3 linked regions of the Homo sapiens genome follow. The protein of the gene in region 1 interacts with the protein of each later gene in a pairwise test. Each region holds a gene or a part of one and is shown on either strand. Other genes may lie near its edges.

Evidence for each region.
Region 2: the proteins of CYBRD1 (region 1) and GOSR2 interact in binary tests that used the Homo sapiens proteins (3 or more experiments, as listed by UniProt).
Region 3: the proteins of CYBRD1 (region 1) and HMOX1 interact in binary tests that used the Homo sapiens proteins (3 or more experiments, as listed by UniProt).

Annotation. Positions count from the first base shown.
Region 1 is NC_000002.12:171,553,416-171,557,166, forward strand, and holds part of CYBRD1 (plasma membrane ascorbate-dependent reductase CYBRD1), read left to right. Parts: coding exon 1-85; intron 86-1,108; coding exon 1,109-1,412; 3' UTR 1,413-3,751. UniProt on the Homo sapiens protein: Plasma membrane reductase that uses cytoplasmic ascorbate as an electron donor to reduce extracellular Fe(3+) into Fe(2+).
Region 2 is NC_000017.11:46,933,091-46,936,841, reverse strand, and holds part of GOSR2 (Golgi SNAP receptor complex member 2), read right to left. Parts: intron 1,814-3,751; coding exon 1,673-1,813; coding exon of another isoform or gene 1,562-1,672; exon of another isoform or gene 20-1,561; intron 1-19. UniProt on the Homo sapiens protein: Involved in transport of proteins from the cis/medial-Golgi to the trans-Golgi network.
Region 3 is NC_000022.11:35,390,954-35,394,704, forward strand, and holds the end of HMOX1 (heme oxygenase 1), read left to right. Parts: intron 1-2,514; coding exon 2,515-2,645; 3' UTR 2,646-3,254; downstream 3,255-3,751.

The sequences.
Region 1 (3,751 bases):
TACATGTTTATTCTGGAATTGTCATCTTTGGAACAGTGATTGCAACAGCACTTATGGGATTGACAGAGAAACTGATTTTTTCCCTGTAAGTTGCATAGTCTTCTTAATTGTAATACTTAAGCCACAAAATGTTAAATACTTGTTCACTGGGAAAATGTAATAAAAATATAACAAAATTTTTTAGATATTAAAATTAAAAAATATTTTAAAGAATTTGTTATATCATATAGGTAATATGATATTACTAAAAGTTTAGAAGGACCAAAAAGTCTGACAAATTGTATTACTCTTATGAAACAACTATTGAAGTTATACATTCCCTTTCAATCTTGTTGATATGCATGTTTTTATATTAATTGTAATTATAGTGTACATACATTTTTGTTTCATCCTTTTTAAAAATTTTAAGTGATAACTGTTACTGGTGGAGGGTGTCCAGGTTCTTGGCGTTTTGAACAAAGAAGTGGACAAAACACACAAACAAAGCAAGTAAAGAATGAAGCAACAAAAGCAGAGAGTTACTGAAAATGAAAGTACACTCCACAGGGCGGGAGTGGCCTGAGCAGCCACTCAACGGCCCGATAGGGAATCTTCTTGGGTCCAAATAGCCCCTAGAGGTTTCCCATTGGCCAGTTGGTGTTCACTGCATGTAAATGAAGTGGTGGCCTGCAGTCAGTTTGATTGGTTGTAGAAAGCAACCAATCAGAGATACTTTCAATTTTCCATCCGCCATGCAGAAAAGCGGGGTTTGCAAAGGGAGTAGCCTCGGGTCCTTTTGCTACTTAGATGTGGAAAGTTGGGGTTTTCCTTTTGGTTTAGTTCTAGGAAGTCCGTGTGAATTGACCTGAGGTTGCCTGCCTCCAGACCCTACCTGCCTTAAAACAAGTGTTACAGATGCTATATTATTTTCATATTTATTATTTTTAAATCAATTTCATTATATATTCCCGAGTGAATTGTAGCATAATTTATATTTCTCCTTAATAGCAAGCTTTGAGAGTTTACATTGAAACTGTACTAGTGTGCATTTTGAGCAGATAAATTCAAGACTGTTTTGCATGTTGCTGTATCATCCTGTTTGTAATTGGATACATCTCTTATTTCATAGGAGAGATCCTGCATACAGTACATTCCCGCCAGAAGGTGTTTTCGTAAATACGCTTGGCCTTCTGATCCTGGTGTTCGGGGCCCTCATTTTTTGGATAGTCACCAGACCGCAATGGAAACGTCCTAAGGAGCCAAATTCTACCATTCTTCATCCAAATGGAGGCACTGAACAGGGAGCAAGAGGTTCCATGCCAGCCTACTCTGGCAACAACATGGACAAATCAGATTCAGAGTTAAACAGTGAAGTAGCAGCAAGGAAAAGAAACTTAGCTCTGGATGAGGCTGGGCAGAGATCTACCATGTAAAATGTTGTAGAGATAGAGCCATATAACGTCACGTTTCAAAACTAGCTCTACAGTTTTGCTTCTCCTATTAGCCATATGATAATTGGGCTATGTAGTATCAATATTTACTTTAATCACAAAGGATGGTTTCTTGAAATAATTTGTATTGATTGAGGCCTATGAACTGACCTGAATTGGAAAGGATGTGATTAATATAAATAATAGCAGATATAAATTGTGGTTATGTTACCTTTATCTTGTTGAGGACCACAACATTAGCACGGTGCCTTGTGCAGAATAGATACTCAATATGTGAATATGTGTCTACTAGTAGTTAATTGGATAAACTGGCAGCATCCCTGGCCTGTTGTCATGCAGTCATTTCCTGTTAATTCTGGGAGACAATGATTTCACAACTAGCGGGAAGCAGTCCTAAAAGTTTAAAATCCGATAAGGAATATCTGGGACAGGGTTTAGATCATGACTCTACACAGATACCATGATGAGAGTATATTAAAGAAATTTAGGAAAGCACCTGGTTCCTTTCTCCCCATGCCTGCCTTCTGCTCCCTCCCCAGCTGGTTTGGGCTCAAATTGTCCCTGGAGACTAGGGTTTATGTTAGGGTATTGATAGATTAGAGCAGGTGGTTGAAGAGATCTTCTCTGGTCAGACTTGGAAGAATTTCCAAAACTGAAGTTAGCCCCAAGACTTCCCTAGGGTTGATGTACTTTATGATCCAGATGCTAAACTTCTTAGAATGAAAATATGCTTCAACACTTAAGTAGCATACACTGCCCTACAAACCTCAGAGAGCACTTTTCCCCAAGTTCTTGTTTTTATTTTTGAAAGTACTCACACAGCACTTACTATGCTCCAAACACTCCTCTAAGCACTTTACACATATTAGCTCATTCAGTCCCCAGACAGACGGGATGAAGTAGGTATTGTTACTGTTCCCATTTTACAGGTGAGAGATTTGAAGCCTGGGGAGGCTAGTAACTCACCCCAAGGTCACACGGCTCATACATGGTGGGACTGAGACTCAGATGCAGGCAGTCTGGCACCTCAGTCTGGATTCTAACCATTTCACTAAGCTATTTTTGTCTTGTACTACTTTGACCCACCCCTGAATAAACCTCAATTGCTGGAGTGGGGTGTAGTTATTAAAGGGATGCTTTTTACCTTTTGCTGTTTGCTGTGGCAGATTCCCCAGATAACCAAGGAAAAGGGGCCACCCATACCTGGAAATAGGCCATAGGGCCCCTACTACTGCCAACAAGCCATGGCCTACCTTGACACTTGTTTGATCTTAAAATTGTGTCTTGGTAACAAAAGATTTGGACAGGCATATCTGTAGCTTTCAAGTTAATTAATTGCAATATTTTTTTCTTCAGGATTTTAGCTGCTGAACAACTTTCAGTTTGGAGCTAAAAGAGACCTGTCTCATGGTCTGCCCTTCCCTGGGGCAATAGCTAGGGTCTTTCCTGATTTTTATGGAATTTTAGGGGATATTTTGAGCTTTGGGTTCTCAGTAGTGAATTGAGACTTGGAGGTGACTTTTCATGTTTGGAGTATCATCTCTGTCTGGGATCTGGGCTGACAAATTAAAACCTAGAGTAGTGCTTATGCTGAAATGATACTTTTCATTTTTTGGTTGATTTTTTTGCCTTCCCTTCAATTTTAAACTGAAGCATTTTAATATGGGTAGAAACTCTACACCAAATACACTAAACATTTTGGTGCTTAGTGGATTTCTTTTTAGGTAACTGGTACTTACTTCCAAAGACTGAATACAAGCCACACTCCATCATATCCCTTAAACTTCATGAAAAACCATTCAAGATCCCCTTGCTGCAACACTGTTCTCTTCTTCTCTACTAAATTCTATTTCCAAAATTGGTAATAGAGCCAGAAGGATCCCCAGTACCCAGCCCTCTGCCTGGCACAAAGTGGTAGCACAATTAAATTCAGTATGGGTGGAGCATGGTACAGTCTTGGTGCCATAGAAGGAGTAGTTGCATAGTCACACATCATTTGATAAGTTGGATGTTCCATTACATAGAGGAACACAAAATTCCAGGGTTTTTGGAGGAAGGGATTAGATAGTGACTAAGCCGCCAGAATTGAGGTGGCCATTCCTTTTTGTATAGGCTAAGAAACAGGTTATCAGTGAAAAGTTAATTATGGCTTTGGCACTAGAATAGCACTGTTGCAAAGTATTTAAGCACCCCCCATCTCAGCCCTTTATTTTATCTTTCATGTGGGCTAATGTGAGGATAATCTTACAGATATTATAGGAATTTCTTTTCTATCTTTATGAAAACAACGTATATAAAATATATCTAGAAAACCTTTGTTT
Region 2 (3,751 bases), on another chromosome or scaffold:
AATTACAAGTCAAACTTCATTGCCATCAGAGATCAGAGAAATGTATTTGTATTTTTTTTTCCCCGAGATAGTGACAATACAATCAGACTCTTGCTAAAGTCCTGCTTGGCTCTGAACACACAGATTATTTCATCACTGTATGAGGCTAAGGATCAACCTTCTAAATCACTTGAAAATGACCATAAATTTCAAAAAATGTATTCATTTTCAGCCACAAATTGGCCCCAGTCATCAGAGTGCTTCAGCCTAGCCCCTTCATGCCCTCTCCTATGTTCCTTTTGAATGGTGTAGGTGGAAAATCCCGACGGAGGCAGGGTGTGAGGCAGGTGGAGGGAATCAAGAGACAAACACCAGGTAGCCACAGGTGTGCAGAGGAAAGTTAGAAACCTCAAGTCTCAACCCCCAGCCACCTCACAGCCTTCCCCTCTGGTATCAGTGTGGGTGGCAAGAGGTGTGCTGATGCCCCAGCGCTGCCAGACTTGAGTGGGAAGTTAGCATGTGCCTTAACAGGACGCTCTAACCCCCACTGGCTCTTCATCAGTGTGACATGGAGTTTGGTCCTAAAAGGCCTCTACTGTTTTTCTGAGATATGAAAAGGAGAGTAGCAGTTTTCTAAAGAAAGGGCAGACTAATCAACATGTATCAGTTCAGGTCACTGCAGGTGGCTCTCATGAAAGGGGAGCGCCCAGCAGGCTGCTGGAGACCACCCTTCCAGGCCATCTGAGACACTGCAACTGTCAGCAGGAGGTGAGTGTCACTTGCAGCTTGCCTGACCCTCTCCCCCGTAGAGATGGCAGGGACTGTTCAGAAACGTACTGAAGTCCTGTGGAGCTGACAGACTCAACATGATCCAACAAAAACTAAGATAAAGCTCACACTTCCGAGTGACTGTTTCTCACAGCTCAGTGGCTGGGAGTGCTTCATTCACAGGGGACCACACCCTGATAACAGACAGAACCCACGCCCTATTATCCATCAGGGTTGATACAGGAAAAGGGCAGAGGCTGAAACATCATGACTGACATCAGAGTCTGTGTAATGTTTCTGTAAACCACTCCCAGGGGCTGGAGTCTCAGCAGTGCCAACTGGTCAGGGCTTCTAGGAATACCTAAGGCTAGGGAGTGAAGAGTCGCTGGGATCACCAGCACGGGCTTTAGAAGCTCTAGAAGCTTCTAAAGCTCTAATCTACTGCAAACAACCAGGCAGCCCTAACACTGCACAGTGGGGATTCAGTTACTAAAATACAAAAGGTTTTAGTTATAAGGCAGTCCACAGTAGGGGTCCTAAGGGAAAGCCACCTTAAAGCGAGGTACCAAAGGACAGCCACGTCTTCATTCTTCCAAGAGTAGATTCTGTAACACAATTTCTCAGCCTGTGATTGGACCCCTCGTAGTAGCACTCACTTTCATGATAAGTTCAGTAAATGGGAAAAGACCTGGATCCTAAGAGAGGCCACTTCATGGTTTGTTTCAAGCACTGGCAAAGGAACTGGGTACTTTCAGGCTCACAATAACTCAACTCCAACAGAAAGGATCCCAAACTCAAGGGCTCTGTCTTGTCATCAAAATATCACAATTTGAGGACACGTAATCAAAATATAAACACAGTTACTAAACTGTTGGATGAGGCTAAAACAAGAGGCCTTCTCTCTGTCCCCCAGCAGGGACCCCACCTTCAAGGTCAGTCTCTGGGTCCTCAGTCCATCTAAAATATTGTGCCCATCTAAAATGAGGTCATCCATGCCGTTGTGAACTTTCTGGAGGGAGGAGTTAAACTGCAGTGATTCGTCCATTGGTATGGTGGTGTCAGAGTCCTGTGAAAGAAACACAGGCACTTGATTAACTTTGCTTATCAGTCAGTTCCTGGGGTCTCACTGCTCTGTCTTTTGGCCAAGGCCAAGCCAGAACAGCCGGAGGGGCTGGTGAAAGAATCAGCGGACCCTAATGGATAAGAAAAAGCAAAGCAAAGGCCTGGGGTGGCCTCTGTCCACACAGAAGAGGAACTTCCTCAGATCTGTCACTCTCCAAATGAGTTCCACTCCACAAGTATCGTTCATTCCAACGATACTTGTCTCTGTATCATGATCTCCTCTTAGGAAAAGCTATTCCTTCAAGACCTCATTGGGTGTCTCCTAAAGGCTTTCTCTGACTACTCACTAACCTAGCTGGTTCCAAATGTTCCTTTCCATGGCTTCCCCTTAATGCAGTGTTAAATGTTTGCTCGTGTCCTTTAGCTATTTTATCTATAGTTTACCTCTCCAAGTAGACTGAGAGTTAACTAAGGATAGAGGAGGCTGTGCTTCTGCATTTTCTTTTTTTTTGAGACAGGGTTTCCCTCTGTCACCCAGGGTGGAGTGCAGTGGCGCGATCTCAGCTCACTGCAACCTTAGCCTCCTGGACTCAAACAATTCTCCCACCTCAGCCTTCTGAGTAGCTGGGACCATAGGTGCATGCTACCATGCCCAGCTTTTTTCTTTCTTTCTTTCTCTTTTTTGTATTTTTGGTAGAGACAGGGTTTCACCATGTTGCTCAGGCTGGTCTCCAACTCCTGTGCTCAAGGAATCTGTCCACAGGCCTCCCCATTTTATAGATGAAAAAATGCCCAGAGAGGTAGAATAACTTGTCCAAGATCACACAGCTGGAAGTGTGTCCAGTGATCACAGAGCTGGAAGTCCAGTGGAGCTGGGAATGTGGGTACTGAGCGCAGGGCCTGCCCTGTTACCCACACTGTAGAGGGAAACACCAACGCCCATCCTGGTGGCTCTACTTTTGCTCTGAAAGTGGACTATAGGCAGGAGCCAAGTCCTCGCCAGCTGTGAGAGCGTTCCCTTCTCTTTTCTGCCAATCACAAGCTCTCCTGCCAAGTAGTGCTGGGGTTTGTTTCGTGTTTTTTTTTTTTTTGAGACAGGCTCTCACTCTGTCACCCAGGATAGAGAGCAGCCTTGACCTACCAGGCTTAAGTGATCTTCTCACCTCAGGCTCCAGAGAGTAGTTGGGACCACAGGCTCACGCCACCACGCCCGGCTAATTTTTATATTTTTTTGTAGAGACAATGTCTCACCATGTCACCCAGGATGGTGAACTCCTGAACAATCCACTGCCTTGGTCTCCCAAAGTGCTGGGATCACAGGCGTGTGTCATTGTGCCCTGCTCCACTAGTGCTGTTTTTACCACCTAAATTCCAGTTTCAATTGTCCAAAAAAAAAAAAAAGGTTATGCCACTGTTTCTTTGCTGCTCAGATTTGGAATCATTTTGCACATACGTGTTTTCAACTGCCCCTGCTAACAGGGGAGCTCCTCACAGATAGGCGTCAGGTCTTTTAATTTCATCATGTGCTTTACTCCTAGTGCCTGAATTAACTAGTTTTCTGCATGCAGCTAATGCCCAGTGTGTCAGAAGATGCTGGCGTTTGAAAGACTCAGAGACTTCTCTTCAGTAATTTGACTAGCACTTATGAAATGCCATTCACATACAAATCTTTCTTACCCTCCCATCTAAAACAGTATGGCTGATGGGCCATTATCTCTCAGAAAAATGTATTATAGCTCCATATGGTAGAATGACCAGGAAGAAGTTTCATCTGGCAAGTCAATGTTTATTAAGAACTGACGGTGTGCACAGCATCACGCCAGGCTGGCAAAAAACAAAATAATCCCAAGCGATCATCCTTGGCCTAAAAAAGGCCTGAATACTACATTATAACGATCTAAAATCCAAACATCTTTTAGTGTGTCTTATAGTTCATTAAATT
Region 3 (3,751 bases), on another chromosome or scaffold:
GCCTAAAACACTGAGGGAGGGAGTGTGGCTTTGGGATGGGTAGCAATAAAGAGGTAAGGCTTAGCTACCTCCTGGCAGGTTATATTAGGCCTCCCCTCCTGTGCCACCCTAACCTACCTGGCTTGTGGCTTTCTCACTTGTGCCAGACCACACGGACCCCTCTGCTAGGGGTTTGTAACCCCGGAGGGCTTGGCTATTTGGTGGGGTAGGGAGACGTCACCCTAATGAAGCAGTTCTCAAAGTGTGGTACCCTGGCTGTGGGAGGTGGTAATCCTAGTATCCCCTCAACGGGGTCTGTGAGGACAAAGCATTTTTATAACACTACTACTATTTTTTTGGTTTTTTTTTTTTCGTTTGAGACAGTCTTGCTGTCACCCAGGCTGGAGTGCAGTGGCATGATCTCGGCTCACTGCAAGCTCCGCCTCCCAGGTTCACGCCATTCTCCTGCCTCAGCCTCCCGAGTAGCTGGGACTACAGGTGCCCGCCACCATGCCTGGCTAATTTTTTGTATTTTTAGTAGAGACGGGGTTTCACTGTGTTAGCCAGGATGGTCTCGATCTCCTGACCTTGTGATCCGCCCGCCTCGGCCTCCCAAAGTGCTGTAATTACAGGTGTGAGCCACCGCGCCCGGCCTTTTTTTTTTTTTTTTTTTTTTTTTGAGACAGGGTCTCGCTCTTTCACCCAGTCTGGAGTGTAGTGGCACAATCACAGCTCACTGCAGCTTCAACCTCCCAGGTTCAAGGGATTCTCCCACCTCAGCCTCCTGAGTAACTGGGACTATAGGCACGTGCCACCACACCCAGATTTTTTTTTTTTTTGGCTTTTTTTAAAAAAGCCAAAAATAAATGAGAAAATTAGAGTTTCACTTTCTCATGAATGTGTGTTGGCATTTTCCAAAGGTTATGTGACATGTGATGCTCTCTCATGGATTTGATGGCTCATGGAATGTGTGCCTGTATGTTCTTGTATGTTAAGAATTTCTCAGTTTTGGCCGGGCACGATGGCTCATGCCTGTAATCCCAGCACTTTGGGAGGCTGAGGCACGGGGATCACTTGAGGTAAGGAGTTTGAGACCAACCTGGCCAATGTGGTGAGACCCCATCTCTACTAAAATATAAAAATTAGCTGGGTGTGATGGTGCACACCTGTAATCCCAGCTACTCGGGAGGCTGAGGCAGGAGAATCTCCTAAGTCCGGGAGGCAGAGGTTGCAGTGAGCCGAGATTGCACCACTGTACTCCATCCTGGGCGACAGCGAGACTCCATCTCAAAAAAAAAAAAAAAAGAAAGAAAAGAAAAGAAAAAGAATTTCTCAGTTTTAATATCTAATTTTGTAAATAGTGATAGCTATACTCACACAAACAAAAGCTCTTTTGGATCCTTGGTTGCATTTGAGTATAAAGGAGTTTTGGAACCAAAACATTTGAGAACTGCACCCCTAATGCATCAGAAGGAGCAGGAGCCTTTAATATGAACAACACACATGTAAATGTCACAGTGTACCTGCTTGCTTGCTTGCTTGCTTGTACTTCCTGTGACCGCAGCCCTGGGCCACCAGACCTAAGGCCCTGTTTTCTCTGGGGAAGCCCTTCTCATAGCCCAGGGCGGGGCTAGGATTGAAACCCAGCTGGTCTGGCTCCAGAGACCTGCCCTGGACTCTGTCCTGCTTCTAAAGACCTAGGGAGCACCCACTCTGTGCCTGAGGAGGCAGGTGGCACATCTACCCAGGTTGCATGGTTGGCTCTGGCCTATCATGTTTTAAATCTTTTTTTTTTTTTTTTTTGAAATGGAGTCTCACTCTGTTGCCCAGGCTGGAGTACAGTGGCGCAATCTTGGCTCACTGCAACCTCTGCCTCCTGGGTTCAAGCAATTCTCTGCCTCAGCCTCCCGAGTAGCTGGGATTACTGGCACTCGCAACCATACCCGGCTAATTTTTTGTATTTTTAGTAGAGACGGGGTTTCACCATATTGGCCAGGCTGGTCTTGAACTCCTGACCTCGTGATCCACCTGCCTTGGCCTCCCAAAGTGCTGGGATTACAGGCGTGAGCCACTGCGCCCGGCCCTATCACATTTTAATAACCAGGGATGGGACTGAACTTGAATTTTGACCTCAGAGCTCCTGCTTTCTAGCTCCTGCCCCATCATCACCATGCTTAGCAAACGTGTGAGTTTGAGAGGAAGATTTACAGCTCAGACCTAATTGCTGGCAAAGTTTAAGGAGAGGACAGGGAGCAGGCAGAAGTCTGAAAACCACGCCTGGGCCCAAGAATGTTTTCACAATGTGGCCTGGCTGCACAGGGAAGAACAGACAGCTTGAAGAAGTAGTGAGCTGCCCGTCTTTGAAGGTATTCAAGCAGTGGCTAGAGGGACACCTGTCTGTGGTCTTGCAGAATCCTGGCGTTGGGCAGTGACTGTACCACAGACCCTGAGGCCGCTCTGCTTTGCTTTCCTATGACATCAGACACCCTGATGCACGCCCACCTGTTAATGACCTTGCCCCATTTTCTCTTTCAGATTCTGCCCCCGTGGAGACTCCCAGAGGGAAGCCCCCACTCAACACCCGCTCCCAGGCTCCGCTTCTCCGATGGGTCCTTACACTCAGCTTTCTGGTGGCGACAGTTGCTGTAGGGCTTTATGCCATGTGAATGCAGGCATGCTGGCTCCCAGGGCCATGAACTTTGTCCGGTGGAAGGCCTTCTTTCTAGAGAGGGAATTCTCTTGGCTGGCTTCCTTACCGTGGGCACTGAAGGCTTTCAGGGCCTCCAGCCCTCTCACTGTGTCCCTCTCTCTGGAAAGGAGGAAGGAGCCTATGGCATCTTCCCCAACGAAAAGCACATCCAGGCAATGGCCTAAACTTCAGAGGGGGCGAAGGGATCAGCCCTGCCCTTCAGCATCCTCAGTTCCTGCAGCAGAGCCTGGAAGACACCCTAATGTGGCAGCTGTCTCAAACCTCCAAAAGCCCTGAGTTTCAAGTATCCTTGTTGACACGGCCATGACCACTTTCCCCGTGGGCCATGGCAATTTTTACACAAACCTGAAAAGATGTTGTGTCTTGTGTTTTTGTCTTATTTTTGTTGGAGCCACTCTGTTCCTGGCTCAGCCTCAAATGCAGTATTTTTGTTGTGTTCTGTTGTTTTTATAGCAGGGTTGGGGTGGTTTTTGAGCCATGCGTGGGTGGGGAGGGAGGTGTTTAACGGCACTGTGGCCTTGGTCTAACTTTTGTGTGAAATAATAAACAACATTGTCTGATAGTAGCTTGAAGTAGTTTTCATGGGCTTTGTTATTCTTGGGGAACTGACCTTTTCCTCCCTGGTTTCTTGCGTGCTCGGTAGGAGAAGTGGTGATAGGGGGTTGGCAGGAGCTGGTCTGTTTGAGAATACAGAAGGTGAGCTTTTCTTTTCTTTTTTTTTTTTTTTGAGATGGAGTCTCACTCTGTCACCCAGGCTGGAGTGCAGTGGCGTGATCTTGGTTCACTGCAAGCTCCACCTCCCAGGTTCAATCAATTCTCCTGCCTCAGCCTCCTGAGTAGCTGGGATTACAGAAGTTCATCACCATGCCCAGCTAATTTTTGTATTTTTAGTAGAGATGGGGTTTCCCCATGTTGGCCAGGCTGGTCTCGAACTCCCGACCTCAGCTGGTCCACCTGCCTCAGCTTCCCAAGGTGCTGGGATTACAGGCGTGAGCCACCGTGCCTGGCCCAGGAGGTGAGCTTTAAGTAGCTGGTGGGCGAATATTTGTGTTGAACCCTGCT